Regions from separate parts of the Homo sapiens genome. Here regions 2 and 3 are each reported to be linked to region 1. Evidence: microRNA targets listed by miRTarBase, many of them from high-throughput screens and not tested one by one. Region 1 holds a microRNA gene; each other region holds the end of a gene's coding sequence.
The links. Region 1 holds the annotated microRNA hsa-miR-378a-3p (ACUGGACUUGGAGUCAGAAGGC, at 1,727-1,748, shown strand). A microRNA usually pairs through its seed, bases 2 to 8, with sites in the 3' UTR of a target mRNA and lowers its output. Matches are read on the target gene's strand: a 7mer-m8 pairs with bases 2 to 8, a 7mer-A1 pairs with bases 2 to 7 and ends in A, and an 8mer does both.

Region 2: the mRNA of PNISR is a reported target of hsa-miR-378a-3p. The part of its 3' UTR that is shown has no 7-base or 8-base seed match.
Region 3: the mRNA of STXBP3 is a reported target of hsa-miR-378a-3p. The part of its 3' UTR that is shown has no 7-base or 8-base seed match.

The regions. Positions count from the first base shown.
Region 1 is chr5:149,731,141-149,735,140 of GRCh38, forward strand. It overlaps MIR378A (microRNA 378a), which reads left to right and starts at 1,685; the gene lies at 1,685-1,750. The region is part of intron 1 of PPARGC1B (PPARG coactivator 1 beta); the gene reads left to right. RefSeq lists silencers at 308-407, 418-467, 488-577, 608-837.
Region 2 is chr6:99,396,986-99,400,985 of GRCh38, forward strand. PNISR (PNN interacting serine and arginine rich protein) reads right to left here. Exons shown (of 12, transcript NM_032870.4): 12 at 1,065-4,000. The coding sequence ends at 3,555. Among named protein-coding and RNA genes, the nearest start is that of COQ3, 4.8 kb to the left of the region's middle.
Region 3 is chr1:108,808,489-108,812,488 of GRCh38, reverse strand. STXBP3 (syntaxin binding protein 3) reads right to left here. Exons shown (of 19, transcript NM_007269.4): 19 at 2,966-3,706. The coding sequence ends at 3,612. Among named protein-coding and RNA genes, the nearest start is that of AKNAD1, 47 kb to the left of the region's middle.

The DNA.
Region 1 (4,000 bases):
GGGGAAGGGAAGGCGAGGCGGAGTCCCAGGCACTGGCTGAGCCCGGGAGCCCCACTGGCGACACGCGCGTGACAGGAGAGGGTGCTCTGGTGTGCCGGGGCGCGGGGGAGCGAGGAAGCTGGTGGCTTGGAGACTGGGAGAGGGGTGCTGCTGGGACAAGCAGCCACCAAAAATGTCAGCACGAGGCGTGCGCGGCCCCCACCCCTTCCCCCATTTTCCCCACCCAATGCCTGTTGCAAGCATAAAGTTTGGCTCCAGAGTTAGGGCTTTTTCTCTGGGCGCCCGGCTGCGGGTCATTGGGAAGCTGAGGATGCGGCGGAACCTCGGAGGAGCCCCGGGTGCTGGCACACGCCTGGGCACGGAGAGGGGCGGCCGGGCGGAACCGGGCGCGGCTCGCGGGGGCTGGTTTGGTACCTGGAGTGGGAGCGCCGGTGCCGGCCCGTTTTGCATAACAGTGGAAGGGAGGGGGAAGGCGGAGATTGGGGGAGGGAGGTGGGAGGAGAGAGAGGGAAACTTTGCTTCTTGTTATAATCTGCCTGTCTTTGGGCGGCAGCAGCTGTCATGGGACCGGGTGGGCGGGGAGAGGCTTGCAAGCTGACTCCTTGCGGTGAAACGCGACTTGGAAGGGACGCCGCAGCCGAGACGTTCAGCTCCGGGCAGCGACTTCGGGCTGGCGGCTGGGACGGCGTGGCGTGGCAGGGTGTCGCCGAGAGGAAGCCCGCCACGCGGGAGGCAGGCCGCCCCTGGCCCGCTGCAGACGCCGCTGCGTAGGGGAGCCGCGGGGCCGCGTGGTCGGTGGCGGGCGCGCTCGGGTGGGTTCGCGGCAGAGGCCGGAGGGGCTAGTGGCGTGTGATTGCGCTTCTCGAGATCGAGGGGAATGTGTGATGAGCGGGTTGCGCGCGCGGGTGTGTGTGTGTGTGTGTGTGTGTGTGTGTGTGCACACGCCGCGCGCGCCGGGCGCGTACCTTTACCTCTGACGAAACTGCGGTGGAGCTCCCGCCGTCGTCGCCGGGCTCCGTCACACGCCCCGCGCCGGTGTCTGCGCCGAAGGCAGGTCCCAGCCTCAGTACCCCCAGAGCCGACAGCTTGGGGCTAGCGGGCACTGAGTGCGGGAGGAGGGGCAGAGTCACTCCTGGGAAGATTCTGTCCCCAGATCTCGAAATTGCCCTGGGGCGTCTCCGAATCTCTTGGCTGAAAAGCGGATGAGAGAGGCCTGAAATAGCCGGAGACTCGTTCAGGGACCCATGTCAAGAACTGTCCGCTTTGGACTGTACCCCGGATTTTAACTCGATCTTCAGTGTTTGGCTCAGCAATAATTAATTATTTTGCCCTTTAGCCGCCCAGCGAGCCTAGCTAGCAGAAATATTTCAACTAAGGAAACTAGAAAATTGAATACTCAGGTGTTTGCAGGAGCAGTGCAGTGAAAGTTAATCTGGGACATTTGCTTTTTTTATTTAACCACATGACAGGCCGAGGATCTTCTGGTGATCTTTGCCGGCCCAACTTGGGAAATGTAATTGATAGGATGAGCTTTGAGCCGCCCCTAGAAGGCTCGGAGAGCCCAGCCGGAAGAGGACCTGGGCGGGCCCAGTGTGCTCCTCCTTATTTTACAGCTGGAGAAAGAGGCTGCGAGGAGTGAGCGGCTTGTATGGGACCATGCAGCCAGAGGGTGACAGAGCCACCCAGGGCTCCTGACTCCAGGTCCTGTGTGTTACCTAGAAATAGCACTGGACTTGGAGTCAGAAGGCCTGAGTGGAGTCACCTTCCCCACTCTCTGGCTGGGTGACCCCGGAGCAAGCCATTTGAACTCTCCGAGCCTCATTTCCTCCATCTGTCAAATGGGGCTGGTGGTGCCGCAAGAGAATCCAATGGCCTGGTGGTGGGGGTGAGCAGTGTTTGCATGTGAGATGTTCTGGTTGTTCCTGCAACCCCCTCTCCTCCCCCAAACTTTCCCTGACCCTCCCCTCCTTCATCTCCCTTTGGGAGCTTTGGGGAAAGTGGATTAAATGGTAATTCATTGTCTTTGTCCCAAAAGATTGTTGTTGTCTTTGGTGGCTAATCCAGGGTTAGATTAGAGGGAGGACTTCTGTTTAGGAGACTTAACTTTTACCCATTGGGGCCAAAGTACGGAAATTTAGCAGAACAAGGATTGCGAAAGTTTCTTGGAAAGCTTTGAGGCATGGATCCCAAAGGACTGTGGGTGGCTTCACCTTTGTTCAGGCTATGCCCCTGGCCCAGAGTACCCTCACTCACCCGTCCTGCATGGCCTTCTCCTCTACTAGGCTCTCCCAGCCCAGCTTGCCCTGCTTTCTCTCCTTTGGTTTTCTGCATCTGTGTGATACAACCAAGCACTTTGTGTGAGTCTGGTGTCCAGTAAGATTCTAGCACTAGGGTTGTACCTTTTATCATTGTGCCTGCAAGGCACCTGTCAGTATGCTGAGCTGTGTTCCTTTGCTTAGCTCTTGGCTAGGCACATGGATTACAGACAGGGGTGCAGCTGGGTCCTGCCAAGCAGAAGCTCCCAGGCTAGCAGGGGAGACAGCTGGGCAGCGAGTGTGGGAGAGAGGAATGCAGAGGGCTGCAGCTGTGGGCAAAATTTTAGACCCCAAAGGCCACACAGCAAGTCCACACTAAATATGGGCTATTTGAAGTTGCTTAGGGCATCAGTCATAGATGCACAAAATGTCAGAGTTGGCAGCGGGAATGTTAGAAATCATCAGTTCTAACAACTTATTTAAAAATATTTAATTATAGAATTGTTAGAAAATACTGCCAAGCATAAAGAAAAAAATGAGAAATATGTAACATGACCCAAAGATAACCACTTAATTGTCATGTATATTCCAGACTGTTTATTTCCTGTTCATATAGATCACATCTTATTTTTAAAAAATGGAGTCGCCGGGCACGGTGGCTCACCCCTGTAATCCTAGCACTTTGGGAGGCCGAGGCGGGTGAATCACCTGAGGTCAGGAGTTCCGGACCAGCCTGGCCAACATGGTGAAATCCTGTCTCTACTAAAAATACAAAAATTAGCTGGGCGTGGTGACACACACCTGTAATCCCAGCTACTTGGGAGGCTGAGGCAGGAGAATCGCTTGAACCCGGGAGGCGGAGGTTGCAGTGAGCCGAGATCGCGCCACTTCACTCTAGCCTGGACAAAAGAGCGAAACTCATTCTCAAAAAAAAAAAAAAAAAAAAAAAAGGAGTTATCCTGAATATACTGATTTGTAACTTGGAATTGCACTGTTCTGTAACTTGTTTTTTTTTTTCCTCTTCCAAACAATATGCTGTGAACATCTTTCCACATCAGTAAATATTCTACTTAGTATCTTAATGATTATATAATGTTTTGTTGAAGATTGAACCGAGATGTATTTAATTAATCCTTTATCGTTACTCATTTACGTTGTTTAATTTTTTTATTTTGCTATTGTAAGCAATGCTAAAACGAATATCTTTTTATGTATGTCTTTGTTTCTTCCTTTAAGTTCCTAGAAGTGAAATTACTCCATCAAACTCATTCCTGGATTCTCTTCTAGAAAGATTGTACTTATTTGTGCACTGGCATGGTCTGGGAACACCTGGTTTCCTATACCCAGATAACTGTTGATATTTTCATTGTTTTTCATTTTTACCAGTCTGTTCGTCAATAAATTCTGTTACCCTTATTGTTTTAATGTGCATTTATTTGATTACTTGTGATGCTAAACTTCTTCCCCATATGATCATGGGTGACTTGTGGTTCTGTGTTTCTGAACTTGGCCCATTTTGCAATTGGTATCTTGTCTCCTCGTTGTTCTAAAGCTGGGACTGAGCACCCAGAAGGGCCCCCTGCCACATGGAGAACTGGGAAAATGGCTCCACACACCCCTTGAAGCCAGGGCCAACTTCTTTTTCAAATCAGTTTGTAGATTTGGACAAATGTATAGTGTGTGGGAGAAGATTGAAGCATAGCCTTCACTGGGTGCATTTGCCCATTCTTTATCTGTGTGAGACT
Region 2 (4,000 bases), not on the chromosome of region 1:
AAAAAAAAAAAAAAAATTCATCTAATTCCTCCCTTACACAGCTGAAGAAGTTAAGGCCCATGGTGATTTAGTGATTTGCCTAAAACACATCAAGAAACAGAGCCAGCTCAATCCAATGACTCTACTACTACTTCCATTTATGCAATCGGCTGGGAGCGGTGGCTCACGCCTGTAATCCCAGTACTTTGGGGGGCCAAGGCGGGTGGATCGCCTGAGGTCAGGAGTTCGAGACCAGCTGGCCAACATGGTGAAACCGTTTCTACTAAAAACACAAAAATTAGCCAGATGTGGTGGTGGGTGCTGTAATCCCAGCTACTCAGGAGGCTGAGGCAAGAGAATCACTTGAACCCAGGAGGCAGAGTTTGCAGTGAGCTGAGACTGCGCCACTACACTCCAGGCTGGGCAACAGAGAAAGACTCCATCTCAAAAAGCAAGAAACAGCAACTATGCAGTTGCTTAACTTGGGGACATGTGAGAAATGTGTCATTAGGTGATTTCATTGTGATGTGAACATCACAGAGTATACTTACATAAACCTAGATGGTATAGACTACTACACACCCAGGCTACATGGTATAGCCTTTTGCTCCTAGGCTACAAATACTATATTGAAAACTGTAGGCAACTGTAATATCATGGTTTTGTGTATTTAAACACAGAAAAGGTACAGTAAAAATACATTATAATCTTATGGGACCACTGTTGTACATGTGGCCCGTCATTGACTGAAACGTCGTTATGTGGTGTATGTCTGTACTCAGTACATTTTAGAAACTTCAGTAAATCAAAATACATTTAAATTTATGTAGGAGAAGAAAAACTCAGTTTAGATGTAAAGATTTCTGTAAGGCAACACTACAGAGACTGGAAACCTAATACAACTCCTATGTAAAAATTCCCAAATACAGTAAAAAATTCTTTACTATTACCTTTCATGTGTTTAAGGAAACAAAAAACTCAGGACACTTAAAAATAGACTGCGAAATTTACCTACTTGGTATTACACCACTAGAAACAGATGCTAAAAAGGTAATTTTATAGTGGCAGAAAACATATACACTAACGAGATTCCACACCAATTTTTATTTATATTTTGGGGCCTGAAACAAATCTTATAATCACCTCTTTCAAATTACATTTTATTCCCTTAATGGTGTGGTTTACCCCCACTCCACAAAAACAATTATGACTAATACACTAGAAATATTTTTTAATAGAACCTCTTAAACAAGACATTTTCATTAACCAATCCAGACCAAGGATTGTCTCAAAAATTTGATCTGTTAATTTTCTGGTGGTATTATTTTAGAAAAGATTTCATAACCAAATTATACATCTAATTAACTTATGTGTAAGTTTTTGCATTCACATCCTAAATCATGGAAACCCTACCTTATAAAACCTTACCACTCAAGGTAAATAAATACTATATCACATGTCAAGAAAATAAAGAATTCTCTAAATCTGCCACTAAAAGTCTGAAAAACCCAAATATCAAATTATAACACTGGTTTATGTACTAATAATCACAAATATCATGACGGCTTTTAAAAAAACTACAGACTTAACTGATAAGCTTGCAAATTACGGCAGAGTAAATAAAACTGTCAAATACTACTTTTGGCTCTAGTTCATAACTTGCCCAAAAATGTGCATATCATAGCCAACAGAATTTTTCTGTAGAATTTTATTTTGAAAATATTTCACTTCAAGATTGATCTAAAAAACATTTTAAGATATGAAAATGTTATACAACTTATCTATTACAAATTAATCAGATAATTCTGCAATTAGGTACACTGTGTTAGCTCGCCTACATAAAAAATATTGCACATTTTATTTTGTCTCCAGATGTGATCGATGTCTAAACTATATAGAATTTCAAACTATTTTAAAGTTATTCTGTGAAATGTCATCTTTATAAATATCAGAACTAAATGCACTGTAAACAGCCATTTTGGTAAACATGCATTTATTCACAGTTGATTTATTTCCTTTAGATAAATGTGTAACTGCTCAAAATTATATAATAATCTATGTAGAGGTACAAGAGCACACTATACAAATCTATTTCTATCTTCATGTTGAGGAAACACTGATCTTGGCAAAAATCTGGCATGATTTTTAAAATGAACTATTGCTGGTAAGAAGGCATACTTTAAAACTTTTCTGTGGCCTGCACCTGTTTTCTTTTTAAATTAAAATGTAAAAGCATTTGTTTTCAGAGATTCATTTATCACTGAGTAAGTGATTACATAAAAAAATGGACCCTAAAGCAACTGAGTTAAAATGCTTTGAGAGCCCCATTCTACTTGTAAGTTATCAATGCCTTAAACTGTTAGACCACTCACTAATCATAATTTTAAGAAACGGACAAAATCAGACAATTTTAATGTCAGGAAATTGACACAAACCTGCATAATACAGCATTCCTCCATTGATTTGAGGTCATATTATACTTTAAAAATATAAATAAATATATTGAATCATGAGTCTTATTTCTATAACCCCAAAAAGTGTTTCAAAATGCTTCTAAAACAGAAGTGGGTGACTGTAGAATATAGTTCCAGACTTGACTATTACTGTCAAACACAATCGTTCCTTACAAATAACTCTACTGGTGCACTGGCTTGATTGATTCCAGCAATTTCATTTTACAGGAGTGAACCACACGTTATACACACAGAGAATATATTACTTGAAAATCCCCAAAATAGGAAGAAAAGTTTAGAAAGTTGTCAAATACTTCCAAATGAAAAGTAAAGGTCTATTTCTAGCCCTCTTTCATACCCTTAAAGTTGGAATCTGGCAAAAGTCCATGGGTACAATTTACAAACTTTGACAAACTATTAAGTAAAAACCATTTTCTTTGGGGGAGGTGAGAGAAGGTACCTTTAAAACCTGTTATACAAAATTCCAGCTGCCTTTTTATAAAAGTACGTTCCTTAGATTAAAACCATAAAATTAAGGTGCAAGAGTTTAACAAAAATGAACTAAAGAGCTTTATTGACATCACAGTACATTCAAGAATAATTTTAAGAACATTACAGCTGAAAGAGAATGGCATGTTTATAGTCTTATTATGCACTATATTTTTTGAAAAAAACGTAATACAAAGAAATCCTATTAAGTAACTTGGAGCAGCATTGGAAAAAGTACACCTATTTACAGATTAAAAAAAAAAAAGATTCTGGTTTCACCTACACAGCCACAATGTGCCTCTATAATGAGACAAGCCCTTAAAACTCATGGAATTTTTTTAAAGAACATCATGGCATTCTTGCCACATCATTCCTCAGCGTTTACGACGGGGAGGGGTTGTTGATCTGAAAAAAAAGGGAAAAGACAAAATTTAAAAATAAAAATGTATTTTAAATTAAAAATCTGCAATTTTAAATAAATAATATTATATAGGATTTCTAACATTTAAGACTATGATTATTTATCAAGTACCAAACTGAGTTTATTAAAGAGAGAGAGAAAGGACACTTTCAACTTTGAATAAATTCAGTCAATTTTTTTTAAAAATCAGACAAAATACTTTAAAAAGTATACTACCTTGATCGGGACTTAGACTTGTGTTTGCGGCTTGCCTTCTTACCAGACCTTTGAGATTTCTCCACGGATCGCGATCGACTATGTTTAGGCTTCTTAGCCTTCTTTTCTTTGCTACTTCCTGGAGACTCAGAACTGCTCCTTCCACTAGAATCAGAGCCTGAATGTTTTTTACTATCTTTGGTAGTACTTTTCTTACTATCCTGTCTAGAATCATGTCTTATGATTTTAACAGATATAGAACCACTCCTAGAAAATGTTCTTTCACTTTCTCGTTTCCTTTTTAATCTATCATCCTGACTACTGAACTTAAAATCTTTTTCTTCCCTTTTTTGTTTCTCTTTTCTTTTATCCTGTTCACGTTCCCTTTCTTTGTCTTTCTTTTTCCTATCTTTATCTATACTTCGACTCCTCTCCTTTTTCCTCTCTTGTTCTTTAGCCTCAC
Region 3 (4,000 bases), not on the chromosome of region 1:
GAATAAATGGTTTCCATTGGTTGCAACAACAAAAAAGTCTTTTTCTGGGTCTTGAAATCAAAACCTGTAATTTTTTTTTTTCAGACAGGGACTGACTCGCCCAGGCTGAAGTGCAGTGGTGTGATCACAGTTCACTGCAGCCTCCACCTCCTTGGTTCAAGCAATCCTCCTGCCTCAGCCTCTTGAGTAGTAGCTGGGATCACAGGTACGTGTCACCACACCCAGCTTTTTTTTTTTTCCTTTTTTTGTAAAGATGTGGTCTCACTTTTGGAATATTCATAGAACGAAAAAAAAAAAAAAAAGATGTGGTCTCACTATGTTGCTCAGGCTCGTCTCAAACTCCTGGGCTCAAGTGATCCTCCTGCTTTGGCCTGTAATTGCTAATTCTATGGGGGAAAAAAAATCAGCTTATACAAGGAATTTATGTGAGATGACGTCTTATGGCTTCAAATTCATAAGAGATTTTGTAAACAAAGGGTCTCTGCAATTCAAAGCTTAACATATATGTGAAATACAGGACTCAAAACATCCGATATCAGTGTGATCAGGGTAAAGTGGTCACTGAGATGTCAAGTGATCAAATGAATAAACAGTCCAGTGTTTGCTGTCATCACACTCTTAGTTCCATTTGTTCCAGGCCATTGGATTAATCTAAATACCTATTCCACACATGTTCTGACCCTGGAGAGGGAGTTACTGAGGCACACAAAGATCTCAGATAAAATGCAGACACCAAAAACTAATCCTCTTACTGGAGATATATTGTTTTCATGCGTAGTTTGCAAAGAGGGCTGTTTATTGTGCCAGGCCCTTCCTTTCCATGCACTCATCCACACCAAGTTACATCCATCTCTTTGTGTCGGTTTCCTCAGCTTTAAAATAAAGATGATAATCACAGTACCTATGCTCACAGGAATACACGAGAAGATGGAATGAATTAATAATAGAAAGCACTAAGTAAGCATTTGTATATTATTACTTTATTATCAATACTTAGTAAAGTTGTAAGATTAACATATCAAAAGTTGGCCAGGCACAATGGCTCACACCTGTAATCCCCACACTTTGGGAGGCTGAGAAGGAGGATTGCTTAAGCCCAGGAGTTTGAGACCAGCCAGGGCAACACAGTGAGACTGTCTATACAAAAAAACAAAAACAAAAACAAAAAAACCCAAAAATTAGCCATATGTGGTGGCCCATACCTGTAGTCCTGGCTACTTGGGAGGCTGAGGCAGGAAGATCACTATCGCCCAGGAGTTCAAAATTCCAGTGAGCTATGATCACATGACTGCACTCCAGCCTGGGTAACATAGCAAGACCCTGTCTCTATTTAAAAAAAAATAAATAAATTTCTATGTGTAAAAAACCATTTGAAAATAGTAGAAGATTCAACCCACAAAGGAACTACAAAAATATTTTGACAATGTGCAGTAACTATATGAAGAAAATGAAGATTCTGAAGGTTATGAAGATTTAAATGAAAAGACATTTCACATTCCTGAATATCAAAGTTTCAATATTATAAAAGATGTTGATTTTTCCTAAGTTAACCTAGGAACAATGCAAATCCTATGAAAATACCAAAATGGCTTTTTTTGGGAACTCAACAAAAGGATACTAAAATTCATCTAGAAAAATCTGATAGAAAATTTCTGAAAAATAATAGTAATTTAGGTGGATTGAATAGGAACTTCTTCCACTACATATTGAAACATACCATGAATTGAAATAGGGAAAAAGAAATACAAAACAAACTGTAGGTCATTAAAAGAGAATCCAGAAATAGACCACAATACAAATGGAAATTTAGTCTATGATAATGGTGGTATTTCAGATTAGTTGGGGAAAGAGAGATTATCCAATAGGATCTGGTATAACATCTGGCTGTTTAGAAAGGAGTGAAGCTGGACCACTATGAAATACTCCATCAAGTCAGGGTTCTGTGCAGGAAACAAACTTCTCTAGATATTTCAAGCAGAAAGGCATTTAATACAGAGAATTAGGTCGTTACAAAAATCACTGAAAAAGCAGTAGGAGCAGAAACTGGAGACCCACGATCATTTTACCATCTGTGACCCAAAGGACAGGAAGCTAGTGCTGCTGCCACAGCATTAACTCATACCCACGAAGCAGGCGACAAGACACTAAAATGTGGAGTCTGGTTGCTACAAACAATTCCTGTCTGCGGGAGATTGCTTACTGGCATAGTAGATGGCCTCTGCCTCCAAATCTTGACCAAGTGCACATCATTGGTAGAATATAAACTGTTCAGACCTTACTTATCCTAGAACCTGAAAAACTTCATGTTTAGCCTTTCATCCCCTGTGGTATGGGGTAAGGAGGCATGGGACGTCATGCCAAGTACTAAGAGACAATATCTAGCACACATTCTTACACTAAAATCAATTCCAGATGGGTGAGTTACCTGTAAAAAAATAGAATGAATCTATCAAAAATTTATAATCCTGGAGTGTGGAAGGTATTTCTAAGTAGCATGTGAAATTCAGAAGCCAAAATGGAAAAGCGATGGATTTACTTAAATAAAAATTAAAAATGGATATCCATCAATATTTAAATGCACAAATCCCTTGACCACTGCTAGGAATTTACATTATGGAAATGTCTGTGTAAGTCTGCAAAGGTATGTACCCAAACAACGCAGCATTATTTATAAGAGCAAAACTCTGAATCAATAAAACTATGGTCTGCCATATGACAGAACACTATGAGGGCAAGTAAAAGAAGAGATTTGAAACAAAGATGTTCCCTTTGTTTAACAAAACACATCTGCAGACATATATTATCTAACCCTATATAGAGATTACGTTATTTTTGAAAAAGTCATTAGGAGTTATCTTGGTGGGAATATTACGGTAGATTCCTTTTCTTCTTTGTTACTCTAATTTAGAACTTTTAAAATTTGTAACTTTCCCCTCTCCCCTACAGAAAACACAAACCAGAATAATTTTTTAAATTCTATATTTATTTTCTCTTAGAATGTTCATGATTTTTGGTTTTCTAATTTAAACATACATGATTTCAAAATTATATAAAATTGTGTTCTTTAGAAGTATGTGGCAAAACAGTACACACTGTGAAATCACTCCATTTCTATTAATGACTGAATTATTTTACACATAAACTGAATTTTAGTTGAAAGAAAAACTACACTTAGAGGAAACAATTCTATCATACATATACATTTACAGTTTTTTACTTTTACAATCTCTTTATTTAAAATCATTCTTTCCCAAAAACTATACTTCAGCATGAGACTTTTAGATATAAGTATCCAATGGGTAATTAGTATGTACATAGGTGGCTGTGAAAAATTACCCACAACTCTAATATATTCTCCTCCAAAGGTGAAAAAATTTCCTTTTAGAAAGCACTTTAACATTTCTTCTCATCATCTACAAAGCAGCAGCAATATTTAAATTATCAAAAATGACAAATCCAGTAATAATCATAAACAGTTCCTTAAGAAATGTATTTGAAAAGCCATTATTCCATAAAATATTTACATTGTTTAAATTACATGACAGCAACATTTTCTTTCTATTTTAGTTCAACATATTAGTAAGAATCTCTAAACCCTCCAAAAAGAAATGCTATTCATCTTTAATTAAGGAGACTTTATCCTTGGGTTTATTCAGCATCTTTATATCATCCAACAGCTTTTTGGGTGTTAAAACATGTGTAGAACCTGGTAGGAGAAAAGAGAATTTTTCAGAGGCCAGCAGTTAAATCAATTTTCCTTCGCTTAATATAATGTGTTGTCCTTCAAATATGTAAAGTGCAGTAGCCTGGGGTAATGTAACAAAATTTCTGTAAGACATCTTCCTGAAATCTGCCTATGCTGCAATATTTCAATCCTTCTTCACCACTGAGCATGTTCAGTAACTTTTCAGAAACAGCGGCCATTCCTAGTGCTTTGTCTACTTTGTGCTATACGTTGGTATAATGAAGGGCAAAACGGGATTATCCTATCCTCAGCACT